Regions from separate parts of the Homo sapiens genome. Here regions 1 and 3 are each linked to region 2. The links come from fine-mapping of genetic effects on gene expression. A gene starts in region 2. Each other region holds a variant in brackets. All regions are shown on one strand. Distances are between the middles of the regions. Region 1 overlaps LINC01515 (long intergenic non-protein coding RNA 1515). Region 2 holds the start of LINC01515 (long intergenic non-protein coding RNA 1515). Region 3 overlaps LINC01515 (long intergenic non-protein coding RNA 1515).

Evidence for each region. PIP is the estimated chance that this variant, and not a neighbour inherited with it, causes the effect.
Region 1: its variant is the best candidate, but not a certain one, in a credible set for the expression of LINC01515 in nucleus accumbens (GTEx, PIP 0.53).
Region 3: its variant is the best candidate, but not a certain one, in a credible set for the expression of LINC01515 in prefrontal cortex (BrainSeq, PIP 0.74).

The regions. Positions count from the first base shown.
Region 1 is chr10:65,705,091-65,715,805 of GRCh38, reverse strand. All of the region lies in intron 4 of LINC01515 (long intergenic non-protein coding RNA 1515), which reads right to left. Among named protein-coding and RNA genes, the nearest start is that of LINC01515, 140 kb to the right of the region's middle. The variant C/G (reference allele first, on the strand shown) is at 4,992.
Region 2 is chr10:65,565,281-65,575,995 of GRCh38, reverse strand. LINC01515 (long intergenic non-protein coding RNA 1515) reads right to left here and starts at 4,571. Exons shown (of 6, transcript NR_120647.1): 1 at 4,417-4,571; 2 at 2,940-3,061. RefSeq lists a silencer at 8,858-9,058.
Region 3 is chr10:65,675,324-65,686,038 of GRCh38, reverse strand. The region is part of intron 3 of LINC01515 (long intergenic non-protein coding RNA 1515); the gene reads right to left. Among named protein-coding and RNA genes, the nearest start is that of LINC01515, 110 kb to the right of the region's middle. The variant AAAAAT/T (reference allele first, on the strand shown) is at 5,096.

The DNA.
Region 1 (10,715 bases), 140 kb before region 2:
CTACAGTGTACTCAGAGGTGTGGCACATTAAGCTGCTATTTGCTAATAACACTTTAGAAGAAATTAGTTGATGTCACAGTTCGGAAAGCTCCAGCACCATACACTAAGATGAAGTTTTGGGTGCAAAGTATTTATTAGGGATTAATACCTGTGAAAGGTAAAGAAAGAAAGATTGGTTAGAGGAAGAAGTCGTACTCTGATGTATGTCTGTCAAACATTCAGCCAATGTGAGGGAAGAGATCAGGAGCAAGTATTACCTGTCTAGTTGTCCTATTTTGAGCTGAAATGACTGTACCTTTATGTCCCAGCCTTTTATTTATCCAATGTGGGCTGCCCAGGGAAAATCATGACCTCTGGCAAGGCTACTTTCTGAAGCAGAGGCTGATTATAAAGGAGCTGAATGTTGATGGCTGTCTGCTGATCACATTCCTGCAGCATGGCAGTTCTTTCCTGACAGGTGGCGTGTATCTATATCTATCATACTTAGACTAATTAGCTATCTTTTCAGAGAAGTGAACTGGGCCTAGATTCAATGAGATGCCAACAGACGTACATTTTATTGAGAGACTCAAAACAACTGCTTTCAGTGAGTTGATTCACATTTGCTCACATTGTGTGCATCTTACCCACTAGGGAAGCGTAGGTACCTAGATTCATAGAGCAGAGATAGTAAGGATTGTAAAAGAAAAGAGAGAAGCCCCAAAAGGGAAGGATGAGAGAGAATCAGCAGTACATTTCCCTTGCACCAAGTCAACACAGTCACACATACTTAGGGGCATCAATTCTTTTTTTTTTTTTTTTTTTTTTTTTTTTTTTTCAGACAGAGTCTCGCTCTGTCTCCCAGGCTGGAGTGCAGTGGCACAATCTCCGCTCACTGCAAGCTCCTCCTCCCAGGTTCACGCCATTCTCTTGCCTCAGCCTCCCGAGTAGCTGGGACTACAGGCGCTCGCCACCAGGCCTGGCTGATTTTTTGTATTTGTAGTAGAGACGGGGTTTCCCTGTGTTAGCCAGGGTGGTCTCGATCTCCTGACCTTGTGATCTGCCCGCCTTGGCCTCCCAAAGTGCTGGGATTACAGGCGTGAGCCACCGCACCCAGCCAGGCATCAATTCCTTACCTCTTCTATCTTTCTGTTTAGTAAGTGACATCTTGTTTGACCAGAGTTTACCCATATTTATTCTTTCATTTTTTAAACCATGTTATTTTTACTGTTTCAAGAAAAAAAAAGTCTTTTTGTTGGTGGCTTTCCTGTGTTTTCTAGAATTAGAAAATCATTTTCTAAGAGCATTAGACATAACCAAAATGCTTCATCTCTGTAGAACTTTGTAGCAAGTAGGGATGTGGGGAACTGTGATTACAATGAATTACAGAAACCTTGTGTGCAAGACATGGGAAAGTGTCAGTACTCCTGCCCAGTGCACTATAGATGCTTCTAAGGACCCATACAGGGCTGTTCTTCCAGTCTGTATGCTTTCCTTAAAAAAAAAAGAAAATAAAATAAAAGAAGACAGGAATGGAAATGATGTGCCATTATTTTCTCCACCTCAAATTTCATCTTGTAAAAGTTTTGTTTACCTTTTTTCAATGCTGACGCAGAGTGATTTAAAAAATGAAATCAGGTATCAATGAACTCAGGATAAAAAGCACCACGAGTTTTACCACCCTGACAAGTCATTGCATAGGCATCAGCAAGCTTTAAAAAATCACAGTGGTTAGACAACATAATTTGCATTGCCCAATATCTTGTAAAAACAGCTAAATGTTTTATTTCACAGACTTCCTTCTCAGGTTGTGTCTCAGTGATTTTCACTTATTAAGTAGCATCACAAGCCATGAAAATATTCTCCCCAGGCACACACAGCTCACTAGAATTTTTGTTCTCAAAATATTGATTTCATGATTAAACATTCCATCAGATAAGAACTCTAGACCTGAGCTTTAGACTTTTCATACTGGGTTGCATTTATGGTTTGAAAAGTCTTGAAAATTATCTATTTCAATTAATGAAATGTAGAGATACTGTTCTATCACAAAGATTAGATTTATTCCCAAGTTCCCATTGCTCATAAGAGGCTAGTGTTCTGTGAAATTTATGATAATACTTAGTTTCTTAAACTTTGTTATGTGGCCATATGCTGCCATTTATACGTCTGAAAAGCATGGCTGGAAATTATGAGGAAACAGAATTGGTATATGACTACTTAGGAAAATGCACACAGTCATTTTATGACTGCTTTTGGTAACTGTCTTTTTCCCACAAACAGTTAGGCTTATAAAAGGATGAATTTTCTTTAAAATTTTTTTGTTTTTCTTCATTCACATATTAGGCATGAAAGATGAATTTTCTAAATTTGGTTTATATTGGCCAACACAAGTTAAATAACAGTGTGAGGCACTTAAACTTTATGCTGGCATCTGAATTTAGTCTCTCTACTAATCAGATACTTTGCAATACTTGATATCCTTTTTAACTTTCCCCATTATCTGGGTGACAAACCTTTTCAAGCACTTTTGTGACTCTTAAAATCATAATATGCTAGACCTTTTAAAAATTTTAAGTTATCATAAACCCTTCAATATTGTTTCTAAATTAATGAAGTCTTCAAATTAAATATCAATTTACAATTATACATTTGAGATTGGAGTTACTTTTTAAAATTATCTTCTTGAAAGGTCAAATTGTCTTAAACAATTAAAATAGTTGAAATGTAAATATTTATACTTATATTTCCTAATGTAAATTATTAATAACCTGGAGTCAATTGTATTTTGAGTGATTCTAAATTTTCATAAGTTTTCAAATGCTTACCACTGCAATCACAATTATATAAGCCCAAATACTGTGAAGGGCTGCTTTCCTAAAGCAATGTTTTTGGACCTGCATCTTTGAGTTTCTAAGTACTTAAGAAACAGGACGATTGGCTAGGATGCAGTTGAACAATTTACTATAACACTGATGATATAGGTGAACCCTATTTACAGTTGTCATACTCTGTTACAGAAAGATGAAGTGATGATGCTGAACACGTGCCTTAGATTTAGAACCTATGTTTTTTAAGTAAAACTATATGTAACTGGTAACTGATGGCTATAGTTCTTGGTTGTAATATTAATTTTGTTGCTTTTAAGTTCTCCAAGTTAATTAACTGTTCCCTACAACTCTAAAGACTTTTGAACTTGATAGAACTCTTATAATATACATCTCATCTCTTAGAACCACATAAGGCTTTCAAATATTAAAATCATGTTCCATTAGCATTGTCTGTTTCTCATGGCTTCCGTATATTTGGTGTTATCAAAATGTATTTTTCTTAGCAATGACAGTCTCCTCATTCTTCAGAGTGTTACTCTAGGTTATTTCTGTTTATGCTGTAATAGAATTTCAAAGTTTAAATGTAATTTTAAAGTGCATCTGGTTGATTGACTCATCAGGTGACAAAGAATCACTTTTAACAAAGGAAAGAAATCTGTAGTATATTGTGACATGTACATTTTAACTATTTATTGTTATAATCATTTATTCGTAGTCATTGTACTGAGCTTTTTATTTGGGTGGCCATATAATTTGTTATCCAATTAGGTAGTTTTTGAGAGTAAAAGAGGGAAAAATCACTAATTAATAATTAGGACTGTCCTGAGAAAACTGAGACATATTGTCACCAATGGTGCTCAATGATACTTAACTGAAATGTTTAGAACATTTTCATTCACAAGCAATTCTGTAGAGCACTGTTTTTTACATTCCATGCCCTTTTGAACATTTTTAGTCAGCTAAATTTAAATGCCACTGTAATATGTAAAAATTTTCAAGTAGGGTTGCACGAATTGAATAGGAGACTGCCGACCTGAAGCCTATACCCACACCATCCTCTTTGAGGTACACCATGATCCCACAGGCACCAGCATAAAAATATGGAGCTCCAGAAGACTATTTACAAACCACTGCGTTAATGGAATAAAAAATAACACTTATCAAACACCTATGAAATACCAGCCAATATAAATGGTATGGAAATGGGATTGCAATTTAAATCTGTGTTTAATTAGTTGCAGACCCTCATTCTTATTTCTCAGAAGAAAATGCATTTTTGTAAGCTGCATATCTTAGAAAGTTCTATCATCATTGTCACGTATCTGTCAGGTCACCTTAGGTTATGTTACACCAATAACAAGTAACTTCCAAATTTCAGAGGCATAAAACAAACAAAGAAACCCAAAAAGTTTTTTAAAATAAAATGTTTATGGCTTACACTATGTATCTATTGCAGTATGCCAAGACACTCTGTTTATTTTAGTTCCTGAGATACATAGGCTATTGGAAGCTCTATCTTGACATATACTTCTGTGATTCCAGAATCAAAGAAAGGGAAAATGGCAAAATATTCATTGCTTCTTATAGTTTCTGTCTGGAGATAACAAATGTCTTTTTCTTTCACGTTTCATTGGCCAGAACAAGTTGAGTGTTCATGGCTAAGTCAAACAGAATAAGGTTATATAATTCTTCCATAAAGATGATCCTCAAATAATGTAGTCACTTTACCAGGATCTTATTTTAACAAAATCTATGTTTTTGAACTTGTAATTGATATTTCTTATTCTTTCCTATGGGATCAAATGTCTTATGAGAGCCCTCATATATTTAGACCCACCCAAAGTCCCTAAAAATATATTTTGACTCACTTTCCATATCCATCTAAAATTTCTTCTTTTCTGAATTAAACATTTGTAATGTTTCAACTGCTCTTGAAAAAGCATTGTTTAAAGCAGTGCTTCCCAAATCTGAACGTGCATTGGCATCTTCTGGAGGTATTTTCAAAACACAGGTTCTGATTTAACAGACCTGGATAAGGACTGTAATGGAGCTTTTTGGTTTGTGTTTCAACTAAATGGTATCTTGACCCAATGTTGAGTCTCTAGCTACAGGTGATTCAGTTCTTTTTAGCAGCTAATGAAGTCCATACCCCCACCATTTCCATTAAAGAGCTCTCACCTT[C/G]GTGGCCACTATGCTCCAACCCAAATCACTCTGGGGCCAGGTTTCAGACAACTAGGAATAGCCCTATGCTTTGGAGCCTGGAAAATTATTCAAATAAGCCAATCCATAGGAAGCTATTTTTCCAACAGCACATGCTCACTTCATTTCTGATTGTCACATTTTTGTAATTCTTGCAATATTTCAAACGTTTTCATTATTATTATATTTGCTATGGTGATACGTGATCAGTGATTTTTTTTATTATTGTAAGTGTTTTGGGATGCCATGAATCACGACATTATAAAGAAGCAAACTTAATGGATAAATCCTGTGGTTGTGTGTGTTTTGACTACTTCACTCACCAGCCATTCCCTCATCACTCTCCCTCTCCTTGGGCCTCCTTATTTCCTGTGACACAACAATATTAAAATTAAGCCAATTCATAATCCTACAATGGCCTCTAAGTTTTCAAGTGGAAAGAGGAGTCACCACATATCTCACTTTAAATCAAAAACTAGAAAGGATTATGCTTAGCGAGGAAGGAAGGCATGTCAAAAGCCAAGAGAGGCTGAAAGCAAGGCCTCTTGTACCAGTTAGCTAAGTTGTGAATGCAAAGGAAAAGTTCTTAAAGGAAGCTGAAAGTGCTACTCCAGTGAACACACAAATGATAAGAAAGCAGATCAGCCTTACTGCTGATGTGGAGAAAGTTTTAGTGGTCTGGATGGAAGATCAAACCAGCCACAACATTCCCTTAAGCCAAAGCCTAATCCAGAGCAAGGTTCTAACTCTCTCTAATTCTATGAAGGCTGAGAGAGGTGAGGAAGCTGCAGAAGAAAATTAGCCTAAGATAAAAATAGTCTTTTTGGTCATTCACTGCATATCATTGAATTATCTAATATTCCAACATGTTTATAAATGCTGTCATTAAATCTTACTTTCAATATATAATACTTTGGCTCTTGTTCTCTGTGATTAAACATGTTTTTATAATTGAAATATAATACCATAAGATAACCATTTAAAAGTATACAGTTTAATGTGGTTTGACAATTGTATGCTTTCATGTAGCTGTCTTTAATATCCAGATATAGACAACCTCCATTTTAACAAAAAATTCCCTCATGCCCACTTAAAGTCAGTCCTCACCCTATTAAATAAATACTGACTCGTTTTCTGTCCTTACAGTTTTTGCCTTTTCTAGAATGTCACAAACAGGGAATCACACAGTAGACTCATGTGATTTCTGTAGAAAAAATGATGCTTGCAATTTGTCTGAAGACAAACCTATTTTAATTAATATTATCAAGTGAACATATAGTTAGGAGGAATAAGTTTTAATGTTCAAGATCATAATAGGGTGACAATACTGAGCACCAATGTAGTGTATATTTCAAAATATCTTGACAAGAGGATTTGAAATGCTCCCAACACATAGAAATGAAAAATACTCAAAGTAGTAGATGTCCTAAATACTCTGACTTAATCATTATACATTCTATGCATGTAACAAAACGTTGCATGTACTGTCAAAAAATGTATATGGATATTATATATCAATAAAAATTTTTAAAACATGATCAAGTATTACTGTTGAATTAGAGTAATCTCTGGGAAGTACATTTATATAGTTTCCATGTTCTGTGGAAAATTCTCACTAGATAGAAAAACTAATGCAAAATTAGTTTAGCAAACCAGATGTCTTACACAATTCTTGAGAGTTATCATGGCAGTGTCAAGCAACATGCTAGCACTTTGGCTTGCTTTTTACTCACAAAAATAACAGTTTTATAGGTACTGGGTGAGCATCAAGAGAACTGGCAAATTCTAGAAGAGGAGAGAACAAATCTATATGCTGAGCAAGGTCAATGGCTTCTTCCCCTCCATCTTCCCATGAGGGACTGAGCTTACCCAAAATCTAAAATGAAAGACATTAACTAATACTTAAAGATTAATACAGAGTTTTAAAAAATTAATAGGAATTTAAATTTAAAAATTCACTCTTCATTATGTAAGTATTGTCTTTTAATGTTAAATTAAAAATTGACCTACCACCAGAAAGGTAATAAAAACAGGAACAAAAGAAGCTAAATGCATTACAGATGAATAACATAATCACACTGAAGGTAGAAGGGAAGAAAAGAGCTAACCCAAATAACATTGGAAAAAAATATTTTGACCAGATACTCTAAAGCTAAAGACACAAGAAACTGTACACACATACTGTCATACAGTTAGGAAATTTGTTTCTCATAAGAGTGTGAGTAATTCTGAAATGACTTTACACACATATATTGTTTTATCAGCGTTGTAGAAAAAAGTTACAAATAAAGAGGAGGGTCTTGTTATGTTGAATTAGAATTAAAAGTATAAGTAAGAACTCATACACACACACACACACACACACACATAAAGAAAGAGAGAGATTGAGGGAGAGAAAGAATTGTGTGGATGAGTATTTATACATATACTTTACAGTATTTATACAAATGTTCTTAGCTCTGTACACTGAGAGGCATTGATTTCCCAGTAACAGTGAGCATACCTAGCATCCACGTGCTGGTTTGTAAGTGGTATCCAAAAAGAGGAACTGGGGCTCTGTGATGGTTAATTTTATGTATCAACTTGTCTAGGCCATAGTTCCCAGATAATTGGTCAAGCACCAGTCCAGATGTTGTCATGAATGTGTTTTTAAAATGAGATTAGCATTTAAACAGTACACTTTGTGTAAAAAGGTTATCTTCCTTAATGTGAGGGGCCCTCATATAATCAGTTGAAGACCTTAACAGAAAAAGACTGAAGTTCCCAGAGGAAAAGGCTAGTTCTATAAGCAGACTGCCTTCAGACTTGAGTTGCAATATGAACTCTTCTCTGGGTCTCTAGCCTGTGGGCCTGCCATGCAGATTTTTGGACTTGCCAGCTCCCATAATTGTGTGAGCCAATTTCTTAAAATAAATCCTTCTATATGCATATATACACACATCTTAGTAGTTCCGTTTCTTGGGAGAGCCCTGACTGATAAAACGTCTTTGGAGGAATGGTTGAACTCAAGGCTGATTTAGGGAAAATACAACATGAGCCTAGAGCATCTTGTGTCAGAAAGTAAGCACATGTTCAGAAAAAGCGGGTAACATGTTGAAAGCACACATGAGTCAACCTTAAGGAGCTACTCATGGCTAGAATCGGAAAATTTTGAATAGCAAGATAAATGCTGATAGTAATTATTATAATCCATAGAATAATAGAAGCATATATGGATCCACACTGATAGCAATACATTAATTGCTATCAGTATTTAATCATGTTTTAATGATAGCAATACATTATTGAATAAATAGGTAAATTATGAGAGAGGATAATAATAAATTATGGATGCTAAATTTAGTGGGCTGCAACTTGAAAAGAAACATATTTTTTACAAGGATTATCTTTCTGGGATGTTTTTAATTATAAAGGAAAAAACTGTAGATCAATACTCTTCAAAAGTGTCAAGGTAATGCGATACAAAGAAAGAAGGAGGAACTGTCACATATTGCAGGAGACCAAGAAGATACATGCACAGTGTGAAAATAAGATTCTGGGTTGGACACCGAAATAGAGAGAAGTGGAAACTGATGAAATTCATATAAAATCTGTTGTTTTATATGAAACATTTTCTTGTTTTTATAATTATTTATGGTTTTCACTATTATTAAAAGTTATACTTGCACACAATATAAATTGGGGGTAAAATAGTTCTACAAGGGTCCTTGTAGCAATTCACACATCCTAAATTCCCTTCTAACCTGAGGCTACCACTTTCAACTCTGTTTGACGTTTATTCTAGAATTTAACTGTATATGTCCAAATAATATACCTATTTAGCTACTCCTTGATTATTTTCTAAGTTTTAAGCATTATATACTATTATATACTGCCCCTACCAGAGAATATTAGAAGGTAGGTCTTTTTCAACCCTTTTCAAGCCCCTAAACCACCCCAACACATGTAGCCTCCCTTTTTCCCGTATATCTAGTCTAGTTAAATTGTAATTTTGATTTTTGTTGATTTCAGTATTCATGTTGTAAGTATGAAAACATTACTCAAGCTGAACCATCTATTTTACTATGGCCATTGAAAAAACTTCCTGCTTCAATTTTTTTTTCCTCTGGAGTTAATAATTATCTTATTTTTAGGGATGCAGAGAAGGAAGGTTGCTTAGTTTTTGATGTATTTTTCACTTATTTAATGCTAAACATTCTAACAATTGTCTAAATCTTTCCCCAATGTCTTCATTCATGAATTATTCTATCAAATCAATCTAACTGAGGAAAGTTTTCCTGGGGCCTTCTCTTCTGCTCCAGTCTGGTACACAGTTGTTACCTGTCATCTCTCTTCACTTATTATCTTGGCTATTTCCTTCTGTTGCCTTTTGTCTTGAATCTCTTATTTTATGCACCTTTTGTACATTACTTTCTTGACTTCAACCTTGTTGAAACCTGAATCTGGTTCAGCCTCGTTTAGGTAGTGCACAGTTTTCAGAAACTTTCTAAGGAAGGATACTGGAGGAAATCATTTTATGACCTTTCATGAATGACTTTTGTATCACCACTTAACAGATTGTCACATAGTGGCTTAAAACAATAGTTCCATGAGGTCAGGCAGCTCAACTAGGCTTTATACTCAGGATGTCACAGGCCAGTATAAATTTCTTAAGACAATGACGTCTTATCTGGAGGCTTGGGACAAAGACCTACGTAAGCTTCATTGGATTCCCCCATTGTTAGTATCTTTATCCCTTTTATTTTGGTCTGTTCAAATTTCCAGGAGAAAGATTTTTTTTTTATTTTTTCCCTAACAGTTTAGGCTTAGGTAACTAAATTCTGAGAAACTAGGAAACCTCAACACACATTATTCAGATATTCATATAACAACCTGATTTCAGTACAGTATCACCACTCTAAATTATTCATGATATCCATCACTCCAGACACTACTTTTACTGTAACAGTGAACTAAATCTCTATGGGAGAGCGGGGGGGGGGGGGGGATCAGACTCTCTGTGAGTATGGTAGATGTTGGACCTGTTAAACCAAGTCTCCACTTTTATTTACGTATGGGCACACATGCACACACTCACACACACATGCACACACACATACAATCATAATGCCCTCCTTGTAGGAGGAGATGCTACCCATCTCTAAGTCTTTTGAGGGATCTGTCAACTAAATTTTGTTGTTCCTTAGCTTTTCCCATTTCTGATATATAATTTGGCTGTATCAGATTTTCTAAATCAGTTATGTTATGCTTTGGCATGCCTTCCATCTTTCCCAATTATTCTTTTCTTGCTCTTGTCTTGTCTGTTCTCTTCATCATTGTGCATTCCTGAATTTAAGAAAAGTCTCTTTTCTTTTCTTTAAAAGGACATTGAGGAAGAGGTTTTTTCAATATACATGTTGAATCACTGTATTTACTTGGAGATCCTCCATAATTTTAAACAAATATTCTTTTTCATTTGCAGAAAAATCCACTTGTAAATAGTAAAATATAAAGAATATGAATAATAAAATATATAATGCATGAAGAAAAATGCTGTCATAATCGCACTACAAAATAGCAACTTTTAGTAGTTTTTAATACATATTTGTAGATGTTTTTCAAAATAAACATTCTAGAAATTGATTTTGTCAAAATAAAGCCACTAGTACATATAAATATACAGTAGCAAAAAATTGGAAACTATTTAAATATTAATCAATAGGTGAA
Region 2 (10,715 bases):
AATTTCTTGCCATTATTATATTTTTAGATTTGTTATTCTTTTACCTGTTGTCATATATATACTTTCCTGTCTTTGTGCCACATAAATCACAAATAAATTTAATGATTATATGTATATATATAAAAAAGCTTTGAAAAATATTTAAACATTTTTTGAAGGCCATATAATTTTATTAACAATAACACATAAAAAGATAGTATACTGCTGTGTTAAAAATTAACACAATATAAATATATTACTAAGAACTATAGCTTAAACATAAAACAACTTAGAAAAAAATTTAGAGAATTGGAATTTTGTAGATTCAGATTCATACCATGGCTCTACAACTAACTAGCTGTGTGTGATAAAGTTAATCGCTCTGTGACTTCCTCACTTTCATTATCTTTAAAATAAATATAGTGAATTTATAAATAAATTATTTAAAATAAATATAGTAAAATAAACATAGTAATTTTTATATTATACTTATAAAGATTTATAATAATATAAACAAATTTAGAGAAATGCCTCGCTCCTAGTAAATTCTAAATCAATAGTAGATATAACAATTATTTTGTTAAAAAGTATTGAAAATGAATTAATTAATCCTGAAGTCTCAACTACCACATATTTATTTTTTTGTTGTCCTATAGTTTCACTTTTTATTATTTTCTCTTCTTAATTTAATTAGATTCTTTCCAAATTTTTTGTATTTCTTAATATTATGACTTCTGTTAAACTTTGCATGTAAAACAAACTCATTATATACATATTCTTATTTCCATGCAGTTAAAAATATGCCCCTATAAAACCATTGGTTTATAAGACAGATGAATACAAAATGGGGGGAAACCACTGGTTAAAAAAATCATCTAATTTTTCCAAGCTTAGTAACATATGAACCAAGAGCAGATGGGGAGAGAATTTTGTATCCCTCCCTTTACTGACTAAATTTGCATCTTCAGTAAAACCTAAGTTTTTTTTTTTTTAGCAAAGTCTTCAACAATACCCCCTACCCTCTACCTCCCAACCCATGCCAGATACTGTATTGTACCTGACAGCTGCTTGTGATAGTGCATGCAACCTTTCCTGGGTAATTAAAGAATACAAGCTTTAACCCTTACCCTATATAGACTCAATAGTATCAGAATAGCTCTGATGAATGGGACCAGATACTAACTTGTTCAAGAAAGGAAGGAGTTCCTTGGTAAAGAAAGGAAAACAGGGCTCTAGAAGGAAGAACTAATAATGCATCAGAGGATGAGTTTGGAGTGAAGGCTTGGATAAAACTTGACACTCACATCATGGGAAAAGTGGAGAATGGGACTGGTCTCAAGTGTAGCATATGGCACAGACAGAAACTTCAAACTAACTTCTCTAGGTCTGTGGGTGTGTATAAGAATAATGGCTGCTGGCCAGGCATGGTGACTCATGCCTGTAATCCCAGCACTTTGGGAGGCCAAGGCAGGTGGATCACTTGAGATCAGGAGTTCGAGACCAGCCTGGCCAACATGGTGAAACCCCATCTCTACTAAAAATACAAAAAATTAGCCAGGCGTGGTGGCAGCCACCTGTAATCCCAGGTAATCAGGAGGCTGAGGCAGGAGAATCACTTGAACCTGGGAGGTTGCGGTGAGCAGAGTTCACGCCATTGCACTCCAGCCTGGACAACAAGAGTGAAACTCCGTTTCAAAAAAAAACAAAAAAAAAGCAAGAAAGAATGGCTGTCTAGATGAAATAAAGAGCAGAAGCATTGGGAACTTGGGCCCTCAGTGATGTGGGATTACTATAGGAGGAGTATGTTACCCTGGCAGAAGAGAATGCCTCCCTTTCTCACATCCCTTTTGCTTCTCTCAGGGAAGGTGTGGAAAAGGTTTTCTCCCATCTCCCAGAGATGTATTTTTTGAAAAATTTCATCCCCTCAGCAGGCTTCAGAGAATAGCTTTTTGCTTTAGCTTTACTGCTGGTAATGATAAAGATGTTTCAGTTCTCTCTCTGAGAGGTGCTTGAAATGAGAGATACTGAGCAGATAATGGTACTGATCCTCCTTCTGGAAATGAATTGGCAATGATCTGGATGTGGCACAAGATACAAGCTGAGGGTATCTCATAAATCAACAGCTAATCTTCAGTTTGATGGTGTAAGCGGAGAGACTCATTAATTAAAAAACAGCCTCTAATGCTGCTTGTAGTTTCTCCATTTTTAAGTCAATGCATATAAATCCCAGTGTCAATAAAGAGGCGGAACTGATCAATCAGAAAAGAAATATAGAAGTAAGAATTGTAATGAGACTATCTACCCTTTGATGGGTGACACTGAGGGAAGAGGAGGGCAATTGCACAGTAGCAAGATGAGGAATCAAGAGTTACAGCAATTGAATTTATTGAGATAAAAAATACTAATATCTAACATATATTACCAGCATTTCATCATCATCCTAAGTCTTTTGTTTTTATGTAATAATTTTTAATCCTCTTTCACCTCTCATTTTAAAGATGAGAACAAGAAGACATAAAGAGTGTCACCAAGGTCTTGGCAAGTTTGCCAAAGTCTCATATCTCCTAATCTGCAAAACTGCAATTTGTGCAAAGAAAATTTGGTTTCTGAACTTGGGTTTTTAACCACTGTTACAGACTGAACTGTGCCCCTTCAAAATCCTATGTTGAAATCCTAACTCCCAGTGCTTCAGAATGTGACTGTATTTGGAGATAGGATATTTAAAATGGTAAAATAAGATCATTAGAGTTGGTCATAATCCAATACGTCTTGTGTTCTTATAAGAAAATGCAATAAGAACATAGACATGCAGAGAGTTAATGTAATAATTGGTATTTATTATTATTATTATTGCTATAATAATTATTAAACAACGAAAAGAGTGAGAAAAGAATTCCGCCATTGAAAATGGACTCTTACTGCACTGATGCAAACAACTATATTGTCATAAAAATACTCACTGATAGTTTCCAATTTCTAGAGGAACCAGGCAGAGAGAAACAAATATGCTCCAAGTCTTGATCACAGGAGTATACCTTACTTAATTATTAAAGGCCATAAATAGTTCAAAGTTTCTTTGACTCTGAAAAACAAAACACGGATCAGCAATATTCCAAGCAAAGGTTAAAAAGATTTGTTCAGTTTCTTTTCTTTTTTTTTTTTTTTTTTTTGAGATGGAGTTTCGCTCTTGTCACCCAGGCTGGAGTGCAATGGCTCAATCTTGCTCACTGTAACCTCTGCTTCCTGGGTACAAGTGATTCTCCTGCCTTAGCCTCCCAAGTAGCTTGGATTACAGGCATGTGCCACCATGCCCGGCTAATTTTTTTTTTTTTAATTTAGTAGAAACAAGGTTTTGCCATGTTGGTCAGGCTGGTCTTGATCTCCTGACCTCAGGTGATCCACCTGCCTTGGCCTCCCAAAGTGCTGGGATTTCAAGTGTGAGCCACCGCTCCCAGCCTGGTTTCAGTTTCCTGAGTTCAGTCCATTTAGTTAACTCTTGTTTTGTTTGATATTTGTGAGCATTTCAGCTCCTTATGAGTCCTGTATATTTTTCTTTATTTTAATGTTACAATTTCCAAAGTTACCAGAAGCCTGTGTTTGAGAGCACCTGTTAAAGTTCTATAGCTCATTATAAACCATCTTTGAGAAGGATTAAACAAGGCAACAACTGTCTGTGAATAGCAAAATGTCCAGGGTACTTACAGTTAGAAACACGATTGACAAAGAAGCTTGGTTATCTCCGTGGTTTACAATAACTTAACATAACGACCTTAATTATGACTGATAGCATATATTCAGCCATTAGAATTCTAGAAATCTCATACAATTTTGGAACATGTATTAGGATTATTCACCCAGATACAACCTAAAGAAGACTGAGCATAATTTTTGCAATCCCATGTACCTAAACATGTCAAATAATCCTGTTTACCTCTCTTCTCTGGACACTTCAGGGGCCCTCTGACATATTTGAAAAGCCAGGTGCCAGGGAAGACAATTTTGAAACTGAGGTTTGATTTTGGGAAGGCTGTTAAATGTTTGAGGTTTAAATAACTTGATATTATGAAATAGAATTCCAGGTTACCAAAAGTTATTTATTTTGCCAAAATCATGACTCAGAAATTTTAAAGAAGCAAAAACCTGTTATAACCCTTTACAAATGTGCCAAAGAGCAGATTAGCACCTTAGGAAAATCTTGTTATGCTTTTATTTCAATTTACAGAAAAACCAAACAATACCCTTTTCTGAATTTAGTCAATATGTTCACATAGAATCTCTTCTGCAAGATTAATTTCCACAGTTCTCCCACCACTTCTTTGAACCTTCAGCTTTTTCCTAATTTAACTCAAACAATCCTTTAACCCTAGGCAAAAGTTTACATTTCCATGCCTTCTTATAACCTTTTATTAAAAAACACATTTTACTGTTCTTACTCACCTTGCATGTAAATATATTTCTAGTAGTTTCAACTCCTAGCAATTTTGAACTTTAAGGTAAAACTTGGAGAGTTGCTTTAATTGTGTGCTAACTGCAACTAAGGTGTGCCTTCTTAGTTAGGGGCGTGGTTAGTTCCATATGCCGTGAGTGAGGCCCTTTAAGAGACAGGGGACATGCAGATATTGAATTAGAGAGGGCTCATCCCCTAAGGCAGGATTGCTAAACAAATCCTTGCCGCCAGAGTTATAAGCCATGGCCTCAGGATGTAAAACAAAATAGAGGATTTATTTCACAAGCAAAACTTTGCAGAGCATACAGTGATAGCTGGGGAGCAGAGGGAGTGGCCTAGTAAAGTGTCTTCTAAAAAAAAACAAACAAACAAACAAAAAAAAAACTTTAAGGGTTTACTTGTTGAGGAGGTGGAAAAGGGGAGTGAAAAAAGGTTTAAAAATGCCTGGGGAAGAACTTCTTATTCGTCTGCAAGTGATTTCAACAGCAGGGTTAAAGCTTAATTACTCTCTGATAAAGTTTAACCCCCTGGCAGGGGAAAAGGAAGGCTGCGGTGGCTTGTGTCTGAGAACCATCTAGCCAGCTGTGTGGGACCCTTGGGCCATGCATCCCGTCCCGGGCACAGAGGGGAGGGGGAGTGAGGAGCCCCGGCTTTCCTGTCTGTCCTGAAAAAGGAAGGAAAAGGCCTTTCCCCCGACGACCCCCAACGGAGCAACGGAGTTTGGGGTCGTGTTTCCCCCACCCTCAGTAGTCTGAGGATGAAAATGCTTAGGATCAACAGTGAGAGGTTTTGAGTCCCCATTTCACTCACTGTTTCTTGAGCTCCCCTGTTGCGCGCCAAAAAGCAGGACTTTCCCTTAGTTCAGCTAAAGACTGGGTCCTTGTCCATTCCACGACCACGACAATTTAGGCTCATAGATGGTTTGAAGGGTGAGTAAAGCAGGGTTTTGTTGGGTGAAAAGGAAGGAAAAGGGGAAACAGGGACCCTCAGCAAGGCCAGAGGCCCCTGCTAGCGTGCTTCCTACCCAGCCGTTTGAATTCCAGGTTCCACACAGGAAGAGGAGGAGTCGGACTCCTGGCTGCTGCAAAGGGCACCAACTTCTGTATTTTCACTCCAGTGCGCATTCCCAGTGCGCAGGCTGGTTGGAGATTCTCCAGGGACCCCCTCCCACCTGGCTGTCTCACTTTCCGTTCTTGACATCAGACATATTGAAATTCTCTGGGGACCTATGTGAAAAGTGAAGTTAATTGCAATGAGAGAACTGGAGTTTGGGAGCTAATCTGATTGGAGGCTGGCCACTGCAGGTGATCACATCCAGGCAATTGCTGTTTAATTAAGGCAATGCGATTAATCACAGATGTCACTCACTGGTAGCAACAGATGACACTGTACAACATTCCACCTATGAAATAAACATAAAGTAACGTTTGGAAAGACAGAAACTGAGTTAGGTCTGAGATTCTCCTTTAATGTTTTAATCTGTCGGGTTTTATTTGAATTCTAAGGATACGTGAAGCTTTATTCTTCTTACCTTCTTGAATATGCCCTCAAAACTATGTCATTAATTTTGAGTTCTTGTTTTAGTTTTTAAATGGAAACTTTCACAAATAAACATTGCAACTTTTTTGCCTTTTTTAGGTATAATATAAATTTAATAAACTACTCAGATTTAAGCTTGATGAATTTTGGCAATTGTACACACCCATTTAACTACCACTCTAAACGAGATATAGAATTGTGCTGTCCAGTATAGTTCCCACTAGTCACATGTGGCTATTTAATCTTAACATTTATTTAATTAAAGTTAAATACAATTTAAAATTTACTTTCTTAATCACACAAGCCATATTTCAAGTTCTTAACAGCTCCTTGTTGGTGGTAATAGCCGCTGACATATAGCTATTGGACATACTGGATAGCACATATTTAGAACTATGTAGAAAGTGATAGAAATGTCTTTGTAAAAATTAATAGCCAGCAACATTAGAAAGTGGCTTCTTTTACTCATAATAATTTTTAAATCTATCCATAATATTGCATGCATTCCTATTTTTTTTTCCTTTTTGCTACTGTGTAGCTTTCCATTTCATTGTTATGCCATAATTTGTTTAGCAGTTCTTGACTTGGGATAAAAAGCTGAGTTAAAAATAAAAAAATAAGAATAAAAGTAAATTTTTAAAAATTTTGCTGTTCATGGAAGTTTGGAGTACTCTACTTTTAGCTATTAGGAATTAGGCTATCATGATACTTTGTAAAATTCATTTTGTGAACATATGTTTGTTTTATTTCTCTTGAGAAAACACCTAGGGGTGGGATTGCTTAACCACGGAATAAGTGTAAATTTATATTTATAAGAAACTCTCACAGGAAAAGAAATGTGTAAGAATATTATTCAGCAGTAAAATACTATTTCACATCCAAAAGAATGTTGGGGGGTACTGACAATACAAAATGTTGGTGAAGATGTAAAACAGATATGAATCTCATACGTTGCTGGTGGGAGGGTAAAATGTTGTAGGTTCTTTGGACAACAATATCTTATTGTGGTTTTAATCTGCATTTTCCCATTGACTGAAGCTGTTAGACAGCTTTTCATGTGTTAATTGGGCATTCTTAGATCTTCTTTTGTGACATGTTCATTTATTTCTTTTGCACTTAAAACAATTAGTTATCTGACATTTAATAGACAATTTTTAGGAGTCCTTTTATGTATTTTAAGTATGCTTATTTTGTCTGATATGTTATTGCATATTCTTTTTCAAGATTTATATCTTAACCTATGTAAATTATAAGGCTAAATGTCTAGTTAGTTATAGGAAGGTGTGGAGCACCAGATTAGAATTTTTTTTAAGTAAACCGCAATGTATCAGAGAGTATGCTCTAAGTGCAATGAGTCCAAAAAATATCAAAGCCAAGAGAAGTAAATAGGGGGTCCTCTATCCAAGAAACTTTAAAAGCTATAGAAAAGAACACAAAGGAAAGAAAAAAACTCCAAAGCCTGTAATTATTTAAAGATTTAATTTCTTATAACTGTCTTTTTAACGTTTCTAAACTTGTATGGCAAACAATAGCATATATTTAGACAATGGAAAACATAAAATTCAATAATTGCTTTTTTTTATAAAATAAAATTGACCATTTACTATTTGGCATATTCAAATTATATAAATTATATAATAGATGCCATATTCAAGATGGCTGGCAATTTTAGCACAGAAAATAGAACAAAGACAACCAAATCTATGCTCTTATAATAATAATGATTTTTAAAAAGCCTCATATCTTTGGTTTCACTTATTTGTGTATAGAACTTCTAATTAGTAAAATTGCCAATATATTTTTATGAATCCTTTGGTTTTACCTTCTGGGTATCTAGAAAACATAGATTTCAAATGTATAAATGATATTTAAAATTCAATTCCAAATTTTTAAAATATTCAAAATATGATATTCAGAAGGTAATAGTATGTGCTTGCAAAATCTATTCATTTTCTCTTAACATTTTGGAGGCAAAATCTTTTACTTCTTCTATACAAAAAAACCCATAATTTTTAGTTTGGGCTGGGAGTCCCAATCTTTAACTTGGCTACATGTGGTCAAATTGCATGGCTCCCCAAACAGAAATGATTGTTATCCACCCCCACACAAAAACCCCACACATCCCAACAAACACACAACATGACATCAGAAAAATCTTTGGATTTTATCTAATATACATATTCAACATAATATACAATTCACCTGAAGCTGTTTATAAATATCTATTTGTCCCATATTCAAGTAAGAACACAGATGATTCAAGTATGCAGGTATAACAGTCAAATGTGTTCTCTCCAGTGTTATTTGCTGTTAAGTTTAAATGATATGCAAGGAAGAAGTCAGAGCTAACAATAAATCTTTACTTTCTACTCCTTTCTTATTCATCATGCACACAGACACATCTATAGACAACATAAAATCTGCACAGACACATCCACACAGTTACAAGCATTTATATAGACACACACACACATGCAAACACACACACTAATATAGCCATATATTCCTCAAGTAATATGATTTTTCTTAACTTTCCACATGCCCCCTAGTTGTTCTAGTCTACTAGGCAGTCATTATAAGAAATAATTATTCTATAGTTTGAACATGTAAGTATAGATATTCTTAGGCTAACAGATTACCATATTGCCTGATTTAAAAAAACAAAAACAAAACTCAGTCTCAAAAGTGAACAATGTCAGATGCCACTCTTGGTTTTGAATATTACTTTATCCTAGTTAGGGCCACGGATGCACATTTTTATTTCAACTTTAAGCTATGAAATGTAAAGTTGTTTACAAAAATATATGGGAGTTCTACTGTTTGAGTTATAAAGTAGACCTTGATCTGAAGAATAGAAAGAGATTTCTAACTGTGCTCTCCAGAAACTGAAAAGCCTGGTTGTATTAAGAGTGAGTGTTCTTTCTCTGGAAGTACTGAAGCAGAAACTGCACAGTCACTACTCCTAAACCTTTCTGAAGGCATCAATCCATGAGGCAGCCAGTTAAATGAGATGCCCTCTGAGGTTACTTCCAAACTGTAGTTTCTGTAATTCTACCAATTTCTCCTGATTTTAACATCTCAACAGTTTATCAGAGCGAAGTGTCTTCTAACATGATTGCTTTGCCTAATTATTTTTAGAACAGATGAAATTATATATACATAAACATTTTTTAAAAAGACATTAATAATTAGTTACTGTCTCTAATTATTTACATATGACTTTTCTAACTGAGACTAAAACTTTTTTTAGAATTGTGTACGTACGTTAAGAATATAGTTTTCAAGTTAAAGTAAGACAACTGACCAAATTATTTGAGAGCAAGTAGATATTCAAAGAAAGTTTAGATCTTTACAATTTCTTTTCAGATGGAAGAAATGTATTAACTCCTCCATTCTGTTCAGAGTAAGCAAAAGTTGTTATACCTTCAACATGTTCTGTTAATGAATTAATTGGGAAATACCTTTTAGTTTTTGAAATTCCAGGATTTGTGAGGTTCAAGTATAGAAGTTTTTGAGGAAGGCGAAATGAAAAGGAGCCCTGACTGCCTGAGGTGGAGATGAAAAAGTACGTTAAAAACATTCGAAAGAAACATAAAGGCAGAGACAAGCATAATTGGATTTTGTAATAGGATTGCTGAGATAGGTTCACGTTCAAAATCATATGAAGCATTCTGTTTTCTTGGTTACTGGTTAGCAAGAGATATTTTATAGGGAACTCATCTGCAACCATGGACACCTTTTTAATTAATAAAGAATATTCATGTTTTAGAATATCAAAGCAAGAAAAATTGCACAGACAAGTCATTGTTTTCTATGTAAAGATAAAAAACTGTTTCATGCATAAATTCAAGAAAATTGAGAGTATCCTATTCTATCTGCATAATGTGGCATTGAGCAAGGCTTGGAGTTTTTAATTGTTTTTCCATTGTTATTTTGAAAAGCATTTAGAAAAAAATACCAGTCTGATTTTCTTTCCACAGGACTCAAATGACAATCTTGCTCAACCTGTCTTAATGCTTTACAGATTATTTTTGTACATTCTCATTGTATTCTTGGAGTACATTACTTATCAATTGTGTTCATGACACTTCCTACAGATATTTTATCTCTTCATGAAGATAGTAAACTAGAAAAATTATGTCATTCATTCTTTTTCTTATTTATTCCTCCAAAAATTCTTAAAATATTGCTTTATTGTCATTCTAAATATCTGCTTTATTAACCTACCCATAATGTCATATTTTGCTCTTTCAAAAGTAATACTAAGTTAACCACACAAAGTCGACCTCTAAGCATGTATATAACTATCTATATACACCATACTAGATTCGTTCATGGTTGGTAAGTAGTATGATTTTGCCATTATAGCCTAACTCATCCTTCTTTACAGTGAAAACATCTCGAAGTCAAGAACCACTAGTTTTCATTTCTTCACAGAGATTACCATGGTGTGCTTAAGTATTATTTGCTGAATTTAATCAGAGTAACACTAGAATTAGTTAATGGCTGTGAAAACTATGAAATAGACTATAATTCTTTACATGGCAAAAGTATATGGTTCATAAACCTTTCACTTCTGTTTTTCTATTTCTCTATTTTGGTAAGTGCCAGCCATAGGTCCTTAAGCATACCTCAGTTAACAATGGAGGATATTGGTAAGTTATGAAGGCATACATTCCCCAGAGTTTAGCTTTAAAGGTATCCATACATTTAATGGTCATTCTTGATTATTTGTGTGTGCTCATCAGGA
Region 3 (10,715 bases), 110 kb before region 2:
TCATCCTACTGCACTCCAACCTGGCCGACAGAGCAAGACTCTGTCTCAAAAAAAAAAAAAAAAAAAAAGTTGCAAGCATCTGAACTCCAGGCCTTTAAAGAGAAAATGTTAAGTGCAAGGGATGGTTCCCGTTCTCAAGAGATTGGGGAAGTTGGCATGTTCCTGAGGCAGAGACTGCAGCACCAGGGGAAAAGGCAGGGAACAAGGGTTACCTAGAAGCTGAGAGGTACATTCTTACTCACATGATTTATGGAGGAAGAGTTTTCTGGAAGGGGGAAGTGAGATAATAGGACAGGCCAAAGAAAAGACATAAGCAAAAGTGTGGTCTCAGTTGAAGACTAGCCTCAGCCTGATCCAATGGCAACTCAGGAGTACAAACTGCCCCAACGAATTGGTCAGAGCTTGAGACTATCCTTTGCTACCCCAATACCAGGCCATCATTAGTTTAGGGATATCCTGGGGCATACTTACGGTTGGCTTGACATCCCAGGCAAAACAAAAGACAGTTTTGAATAAAATCAGAGGCATATAGGATGTAGGAAGAATTATTTACAGCCTCAGAGTATTAGACTTTAAGTGTTGAATAATTCCAATCAAAAGTCAGAGTTAATATTTTGGTTTTTAGTACTGGTGTGGGGGCCTATCAGGTATGAATGGTGCCTACATGTCCTTTTCAAATGAGCAAAATTTTAATATTTACTCAAAATCATTTGATTTGAGCATTGCACTCATACCTGTAGACAGGAGAGATGGGATATACTGATTGACTTTGAAAGTCTGAGTCCTTTGGCCTGGTAATGGGGTCAACTAATCCAGGACCATATGGATTATTAAAAAGAGGTATAGAAATAATGGGAAAATGAAAGGAAAAGTGGTTGTCAGAAAGCAAGCACATGTCTGTTACTATTACCCGGTACACTCTTGTGTTTATTGACTGGGGTACAGAGTCCAAGTGAGACTCAGAGATTCCAAGGAAAAAAATGCCTGATGTCCTCTAACCTTCAGTCCAGAGCTCTTTCTATCATGCTGATTTCTTCACAATCCTTCTGCTTAGTTTCTTCTAAACCTTTCTAATAAAATCGTAGGTCATTTTCCATTAGAGTTGTAAAATAGTAGTAAGTAATGAATTCTTAGTTGTATTCTACTGCTCATTTTCTTGTGTTAATCACTGCCTTGCATTAAGATCATCTTTCCACAGTGTTTTAAAGAAATTATAGTCACCTGGTTCCATTTTCACAGGTTCCAATTTAAGAGATTCAGGCTAGAGTATGGATGCTTATATTATTCAAGGCACTCTACAAGTGATTGCACGCCAATTAAAACTTCTGTTAGGTTGGTGCAAAAGTGACTGCGATTTTGACCATTACTTTCAGTGGCAAAAATTGCAACTACTTTTGCACCAACCTAATCATATCTGTTTGAAAATTGCTAAAATCAAGGAACCTGCATAAAGAGATTGACTGATTTTCTGTTATATTCTGGAACAGTTCCTTTAAGGTGAGTGTTTAATTCAGCAATTATATATTTGCAAGTTTTGATTCATCTTACATAAAAGGCCCATAGGGCAATTATCACCAGGCTTCTATAAGTAGCGGCAGCCACATTACAAGTTTAGGGAAGGCGTTCTTGTCCATCATTAAAGAGTGAAGCAAAACTTCACTCTTTAGAAACAAGTTTTAAAAATATTCCTTTCTAATAGTATTTCTTTTATATATAATATTGGGGAGTGATTTCTAAGATTTTAAACATGAAAATAAATAATTATACACTGTGGAAATTCCTTTCTCTTTGGATATCTTGAAGATAGAATAGTTAGAAATATTAAGAAACAATAAAAAGTAATATTAAAGCTCTCTTCTACAACACAGTTCCAGTTTGAAATAACTGGATTTTAAAATGAAATAAAGAGAGAATATAGTCTGAGTGAGATTGAAGGCTATGCTAAACTGTTCATTGTCAGTTGTTTTATAAACTTAATTTTCTTAGCATGAATTATGTTTTACTTTATTAAAATTAATAAAGTATGTAAAATTTTACATATCTATAAAATATAAAAATTAATTCATGCTAAAGTAGATAAAAGTAAAGAAGAAAAACTGAGCTTATCAAAGCACCACAACTGTCCAAAATAATAGAAAGCCAATTAACATCTCTGACGAGTTAATTAAAATACATATTCAAAATGGGTTATTTCACTTAAATTGATTATTTGTTGTTTTCTTTACCAAACTGCTGTATATAAAGTAAATTGTATTGTCATCTTTAAAATGTTAGAATATTCTGAATATTAATTAATAAACATTAAGTTCATGACACCAAAGTCAATTTTTAAAAAATTGGAAAGTATTTGTTTCTAGATGTTTCTTCAATATAAGTCTAAATTGGTCGTGAGTCATTTAAAGAACTCACTTATTTTGGAAAATAAACTAGTCTGCTTTTTAGAAGTTACAAAGTACCAGTTAGCAAATCTATTTATAAATCCAGTTCATAAATGTTCTCCAAAAATTTCAGATAAACAAAGCTCCCTCTGCTTGGTTTTCAGAATACTTAAATTATTTATGATAATGTTAAATATCTGGTAAATATTTTCCAGTATGTTACTCTCTTTATTTAATCTTCTCTTTCTAGCTTATTTTAATTTTGCTTTCTATAAATAATTAATAGGTATGTTAAAAGACTATAACTATAGTCAATTCATCAAGTTACCTCAACTGTTTCCATTTGGGTAGTTATTTGTCACATTTAATCTACCTTTACTAAAAATAGCATTGAGAAAATTTAAATACACACACACAAACACCACACAGTTTAAAGGACCATTTATTACCTCAAAACTACAAGGTAAATAGACAACTAGGCAAATAGAATCAATGACATAGAACAGACCATTTAGTCTCAGCATGTGTAAAAGCTTCATAGGAATAATATGTAGAGATAAAACTCTGGGAGTAAGAGGTGAATTGTCCAATATATTGGGTTGAGAAAATTGAAAAGATATTTAACGATTAATTAATTCAGATACACATTTTACTTTAGGCATTTTACAAACCAGAAGAATGGAAAAATTTGCAATAAAAAAGAAGATTTATATAAGCATTAATGAGGAAAGTTTTTGTAAGCATTGGTAAAGTAATAAGAGACAAAGGCAATAGATATGACTTCATAAATTTTTAATATTCGTACACATAAAATATACACTTTAAATTATAATTAAAGGAAAACAAGTTGGAAACTAATTTTGAGTTAAATATAATTGTTAAAACATTTAAGTACTCTTAAAAATTGATAAGAAGATCACCACATCTTCAGGAGAAAACTAGTCACAGGCTCTAAAAGACATTGTCAGGAAAATACATACAATTGGTCTTAAGCTGCATAATATATTGTCATTGGTGATTATTTTGTACCTATAGTCTGTGAATTTACTCTCTATCCACTTTTAAGCCCTCCCTAAATAATCCCATTTATACTCGTGCCTTCAGTTATACACCCAGGGCCCTCATATTTGTATCTTCAGCTGAGAATTATTTTTCGTGCTTCAAATGATTCATGGATGTAAACAAAACGAAGTTTTTCCCCACAGTTTCTTAAAAGTAGTTCACATTTAACAAATCCAAAATATATTACATGACCCAGTCACTCACAAAACTTATTCTTCTACGGGTCTCCATTCATCTCATGATACAAGCTAGAAAATAGAGTCATTATTGACCACTCTTCCATCATCATGAATGCCCAAGACATCTCCTGGTCCTGTCAAATGTACCTGCAAATATTTCCAACTTTTTTCTCATCTACCTTTTCACCTTGTCTCCATGCATTCACATGGGCTTCATTCCAATTTATTTTCTGCATTAAAAAACATAACTTTGTTTAAAAGCCAAATTACATGTTGTCATTCTCTATTTAAATCTCTTTAGTGCTTCTCATTAAGATCCAAGGAAAGGATTTAAATACTATCTAGTTTTTATGCTTATGTTTTATATTCACCTATCCCTCCAATCTCATATCACCAAAGAACAATGCTCTCTCCTACCCCAGATCCTTTATAGACATTATTCTTCCCAGAACATTTTCTATCTGCTTTTTTGTGTCTAATGGCTATTACTCCTCTTTTAGCTCTAAGTTCACTGAGAGTGTGTCCATGGCAGTTTTACATGAACCAGAGATTTAACTTCCCTATTATGATCTCTCATATCACCTTGTACACTCCTCCATAGCACTGACCACAGTTTTACAACTGTAACTGTAGCTGTTACATTTATTTTTGTGATTGTTTCATTTATGCCTATCTTTTTCCATTCACTGTAAATTTCAGAAACTTAGCTACTCATGCTCTCTCTAGTACCCAAAACAGTGTCCAAAAGATAGGAAACCAAAAAACCTTTGATCTACAAGTAAATGAAATAAAGTCTGTATACAACAATGGGATGAAAAAGAATAATTGGATTCTATTCTGTAAAAAAGAAATGGAAGTATTGCCTTTAAATATTTCCACTGGGAGTAAAACTTAGTACAATCTTTTTTGGAAACCATACCAACTAAAAGATAATCCTTAAGAATTGTCACAAGATTTATTCTAGTAGTTTCACTTCAGATATTGTAATTTTTACACTAGAAAAAGATGGTGCAGGTTCTTATTTAGTTGAATGAGAAAAGAATAAAATCCAAAGGAAATATTCAGAAAAACTATCAGTGTTGTGAATGAATATACACACATACACAAACAAGAAATCCATTTAAATGTTATGTACTATGACAAAAGTAATACAAACATTCTGCAGGTTTTAAAAATATGTTAGGCCAGTCGCGGTGGCTCACGCCTGTAATCCCAGCACTTTGGGAGGCCGAGGTGGGCAGATCATGAGGTCAGGAGATCAAGACCATTCTGGCTAACACGGCGAAACCCCTTCTCTACTAAAAATATAAAAAATTAGCCAGGCATGGTGGTGGGCGCCTGTAGTGCCAGCTACTTGGGAGGCTGAGGCAGGAGAATGGTGTGAACCTGGGAGTCAGAGCTTGCAGCGAGCCGAGATTGCGGTACTGCACTCTAGCCTGGGTGACAGAGCGAGACTCCATCTCAAAAAAAAAAAAA[AAAAAT/T]ATATATATATATATATTTTGATGATAAATGTAATAAATGAGACATTGTTATAAAAGATTTAAAGTTTTAGAGATGGTTAAAATTATGCATATATACACAGTAATAAAACTAAGATTAAAATAAAAAATACCAAAAAGTGAACAGCAGTACCTGCCTCTGATTTTTATAGTGATTTTTTCCATGTATTTTTCAACCAACATGACTCATTGCTATAACAAAAAATTGTTTAAAAATTCCCAAGATTTGCTATTTCATATTTCGTATTACTTTAAGGAAACTGGTCTAATAAGTTAGTGACAAGATTAATTCAACCTGAATAGGCTATTTTCTGCTTTCAGAATGTATGTTTTCCACTTGCCATGAATTCTTAGATTCAATAAGGACCTCTCTGCAGGTTTCCTAACAAATCTTTAGATTCATGTCAGGTGTACATTCTGATTTATATATATTAAGATTACTTAAAATCAGTGAAGCAAACACAGTCATGATTGCTAAATGCCAAGTCACAGAAATTCAGTATTAGTCCCACTAACTCTGTTCATTTCATATCTTAAAAAATGTTGATAGAGTTGGGGAGAAGAAAAATAAAAAGTCAATTGGGCATAGAATAATTAAATTGTGGGTGAAGCTAGAGATTGTTTCTGTCCCGTGAAGCCTTGACAATATTTGGGCAGTGTCTCTGCATTTCATATTTTTTAACTTACTTTTTCCAATAAAAATGATACATATTTATTTTCCAGTTAGGGAAACTTTTACTGGCTGGGACTCTTTTAAAATATGAAGTCTAGTCGCATTTTAAAAAGTAGCTTTTCTCATTAGGTTAAACAATCAGGCCAGATAATTTAATCAACACAAACATTATTAGGGATACCCATAGACAAGTCTCATTAATGACAAGAACCATCACAGGAATTTTAGACAATGCCCTGTATTTCTGATGAGCTAGGAGAAAGACAGAATACATTCCAAATAACATATTCCTTGGTGAACATACGGATTTTTTAAAACTATCACCAGGAGATCATAGTACAAAATATAATTTAGACTGCTAATCCACAAGAGACAAATTACTTACTATTACAAATTACTTCTTAGCTTCCCATTAGCTTATATAAGTTCTAATCATAGGAATGAGTAAAATCATGAGATTCTATGGTCCTTTTGCCATGTATGCTTGCTGTGTTGTAATAGTTTTGTTAGAGAAGATAGAAAGCTTACCACTCAGTGCCATAAGTGAGAAGGAACAACAACAACAAAAAGGACTGTGGCCAGACATGGTGGCTCATGCCTGTAATTCTAGTGCTTTTGGAGGCCAAGGCAGAAGATTATTTGTGGCCAAGAATTCAAGGTTACAGTGATCTATGATTGCACCACTGCACTCCAGCCTGGGTGACAGAGTGAGACCCTGTCTCAAAAAAAAAAAAAACAAAAACACACACACATATATATATATAAAGAAAAATAATGAATGTGGAATGCTGTCATTGTCAATAAAATAGCATATAAAGTAGAGGAGAAAAGTTACCTACAGAGATGATGGTGTGACTTAGTTTTGCACATGGAGATCAATTTCAGATTTTGTTTTCCTTTCAGAAAGAAAGATTAAAAAGCATTTTAAGAGATAAAAGAGGCTTTTTCACAAGAATAAAAAGTTTAATTTATAAAGTACCAAGAAAATACATCAAATCAAAATATATATGCATCCAATATATGGCTTCAAATCATATGAAACAAAGATAAAGAGAAACCAGAAAGAAGTAGCCATATTAACAATCATTGAAGGAGAATTGAAACTTACGTAACTGTGCATTCCAGTTACAGAAGAAAAAGTTGAAAAAAATAAGAAAGGGCAAGGAAGATTTGAGTAAAACCAAAATTTGCAGAATATGTTTTCTTCAAGCACATATGGGCCACTGATAAAAAGTGACTAATTGCAGGTCTATAAACCAAACCTCAACATATGGTTAAGCACTGAAATCATACAGAATATACTCTCTAACTGCAGTACAACTGCATTAAAAATGAATAAAAAATAAAACTAAGAAATCTCCAAATAATTAAAATCTAAAAAATACAATTCTAAATAATACACATTTCAAAGAAGCTGCAAAAAAATAAATATTTGAAGTAAATGACAATGAAAACAATCCATACATTGTTTGTAAGATACAGAAAAACAATTTCTTGAAGAACTTTGTTAAGTGAGTATATTACAAAAGAAGAAACATTGAAGATTAATGAGTCAAATATCCACCCCAAGAAGTTAGGCAAAGTTCAATAAAAAGAAAATAAAAATAAAAGGATCCAAAGTAAGTAAAAATGTACAAATAATAAAGAATAAAGCATAAATAAATAAAAAGCAAAATAAAAATACAAAAGAGAGGATCAACAAAGTAAACTATTAATTTTTTGAAAAGACCAGTAAAATTGATAAAACTCTGGCAAGACTAATGAGACAGAGAAAAAGAAAAAGAGAAAGAGAAATCTTATCACTGATATCAGGAATGAATAAGAAAATTTTATTGATTCACTTTAGGCCCAGCAGAAAATAAGACAATAAGATATTGTGAACGAATTTATTTCAGCTAAAATGAAAAACTAAATAAAATTGACAAAGCTTTTAACAACACATATAAAACAAGCAATATAGAAAACTTATGTAATTATATATTTAATACAGAAAAGAAATTAGTAATTTTATATTTTACCATTGTGAAAATTTTGTGACTTAATGTTTTCATTGGGAAAACTTACCAAATATTTGAAGAAACCATATTTCAAATCTTAAATAAATTATTCCAGAGACTGGAATGAGGAAACACCCCTTAAATCAATTTAAATGGTAATTATAACTTTGATATTAAAACTGAGAACATCAGTACAGGCAAAGAAAATTACAGATAAACTAAAAGATACCAGATACAAAATTCTAAATAAAATATGAGTAAACATAATGAACCAATATAGAAAGAGAATTCAACATTACCAAGGTCAATCCTAAAAAAGCCAATCAACATGTTGCATCCCATTAACAAGCTAAAGAAGAAAAATCATTTGAGTATCTCAGTAGTTTTAGAAAAAATTATCTTATAAAATTTGTGTTACTATACAAATAGAGTGGAGCTTACTTAATTAAACAAAGATTTTTTTCAACAATAAACAGAGAAGCAAAAACATAACAAAACAAAAAATTTTAGAATCATCATACTGAAAGTGAAACATTAAAATATTTTCTCTGTACAAATAGGGACAAAAGAAAGACTCAAAATTACTACTTCTATTCAATATTGGAAAATGCTGTAAAGAACTAAAATAAATTAAAGTATAAATATTGCAAATAGAAAATCTCTAAATGTTTATAGACAATAGGATTTTGTGTGTGTGTTTAAAAATTCAATAGACTCTAAACATTAATTTTTTAGAATTAATTGGAAAGTTGAGCAAACCTCCTGGTTTCTAGTACAACATTCAGAAACACACTACAAAGAAAAAGATATAATTTACAGTATATGAAAAATATCAAGTACATAGTAATAAATTTGACAAAGGTGTACTTGAGTAGAAAAAATAAAAGTATAAAAATTTAATGAAAATCTTTAAGAAGGTCTAAAAAAATAGATTTATGGCATAGATTGCACTACAGAACAGTGAGTAACCTATAGTCTTTTCGAGTAATTTATGCAGAGGCATTTAAGTACTGATATGAAAATTATTGTACCTCCCATTTATACTACAAAAATTCATTCCAAATAATTTATAGATTACATGTGAATAGCCAAACAAAGCTTTTATAATACAGCATAGGAGGCAATCTTTATGAATCCATAAGGGACCAGTTGAAAAGCATTATTCATTAATTATGTTTATTATTACAAAGTATGAGGAAGATTCCTTAAATTATTCAAAAGCATGAACATTGACTTGAAATGATACTCATGATACATAAAATGAGAAGAAGAAGTAAGAACAATAAATCCATAGTAATCAATGCCATTTGGCATTGACACTAAGAGAAGAGTATAGATTATGAACAGAATTAAAAGTCCAGAAATCAACTTTATATTTATGGTCAACTGACTTTTGACGAAAGTGCAAAGACAATTCAATAGGAAAAGAATAGTCATTTCACAAATGCTGCTGGAAAAATTATATATCCCCATTGAAATATTTTTTATTAGAAAAAAGGGGGGAACCTTGCACCTCTACCTAACATTATATAGAAAATTTATTAAAAGTGGATCAAAGACCTAAATATAAGAGCTATAACCATAAAAACAAACAAACAAAAGCATCTGGAAAAAAGAGAGAAATAAATTTTTTGGCCTTGGATAAGGCAAATAATTCTTATATGTAATACCAAAATAATAATTCTTATAGGACAAAAATTGATAAACTGCACTATACCAAAATTTGAAACTTCTGCATCTCGAATGACATCATTATGAAAATGAAAATATGAGTGAAAAACTAGGAGAAAATATTTTCCAATCGTATATCTGGTAAATAAGTTGTATCCAGAATACACAAAAATTTTCACCATTCAATAGAGAAGAAAAAATTTAAAAATGGGCAAAATAGTTGATTATGTATTTCACCAAAGAGATACACAAATGACCCATGTTATTATTATTATGACTGCTTACTAAGCATCTACAATTCTCCATACCTCGTTAAAGATTCTCGACATTCCAAAACTAAAGATATTGCCTCTGTCCACCATTTTAAATGGCAAGAAAGTTTGAAATTTTTCTGATAAATACATACATATGGTGATAATGGAGCTAGAGCAAGGGTTATTGAATTTAGCCTGAGAGGGGAGAGGGCTTTATCCAGGAGACATCTTGTTTCCAAGGAGACAAGACAATTGACTTCAACCTTAGAAGAGTCAGTTGTCTCAAAACATGTAAATTGAGAGTAGTCAGTTTAGTTTCACTTGCCTACTTTCATTAAATTATTTTTCTTTTTGGCTCTTAATGTTCTTATTCCTTCTGTGTTACCTTCCTCAAAAAACTAAGCCATTGGTCTTTATCTTCTGTGTAAAGTTTTCAGTTATCATGTCTCAGGTCCCAGGGTGGCTTGCTGCATGAGGAAATGGTCTTCATGTATTAATACCAATAGACTCTAAAGGCACATCAGACTTTTAAGGTTGCATACACCTATGGAAACTTGGACAAAAAAAACCCTTATAAACTTGCATGATGAAGTTCTCTCATTATTAAGCTGCCCCTATTTTAGATAGAAAATAAATGTACATTAAATTAAATTTATATTACTATATTTAGTTGCCGGGTCCATTCCACAGACCCTGACCGAGCGACAGATGAAAGCAGTATTCAGACACAGGTATCCAGTGAAAGAGCAGGCTAGGGGACTGCCGGCACTAGGGGCCGAAGAAAGTTAGCAGTCTCCATAAGCCAGAGCCACTTGTATTTATTCAGTACAGATTTAATGACAAAGGCTTGGAGCCAACACAACCTGTGGATAATTAACATTGCCGTCCCCCCTCCCAGGGAGTAGTCTTGCACGGGGATGATCAAAGGTCAGTTTCCGGACAACATAAGTAAACAAATGTATCTAGATAAACTCCTTTACACTCCCTTGTTACCTACTTCTT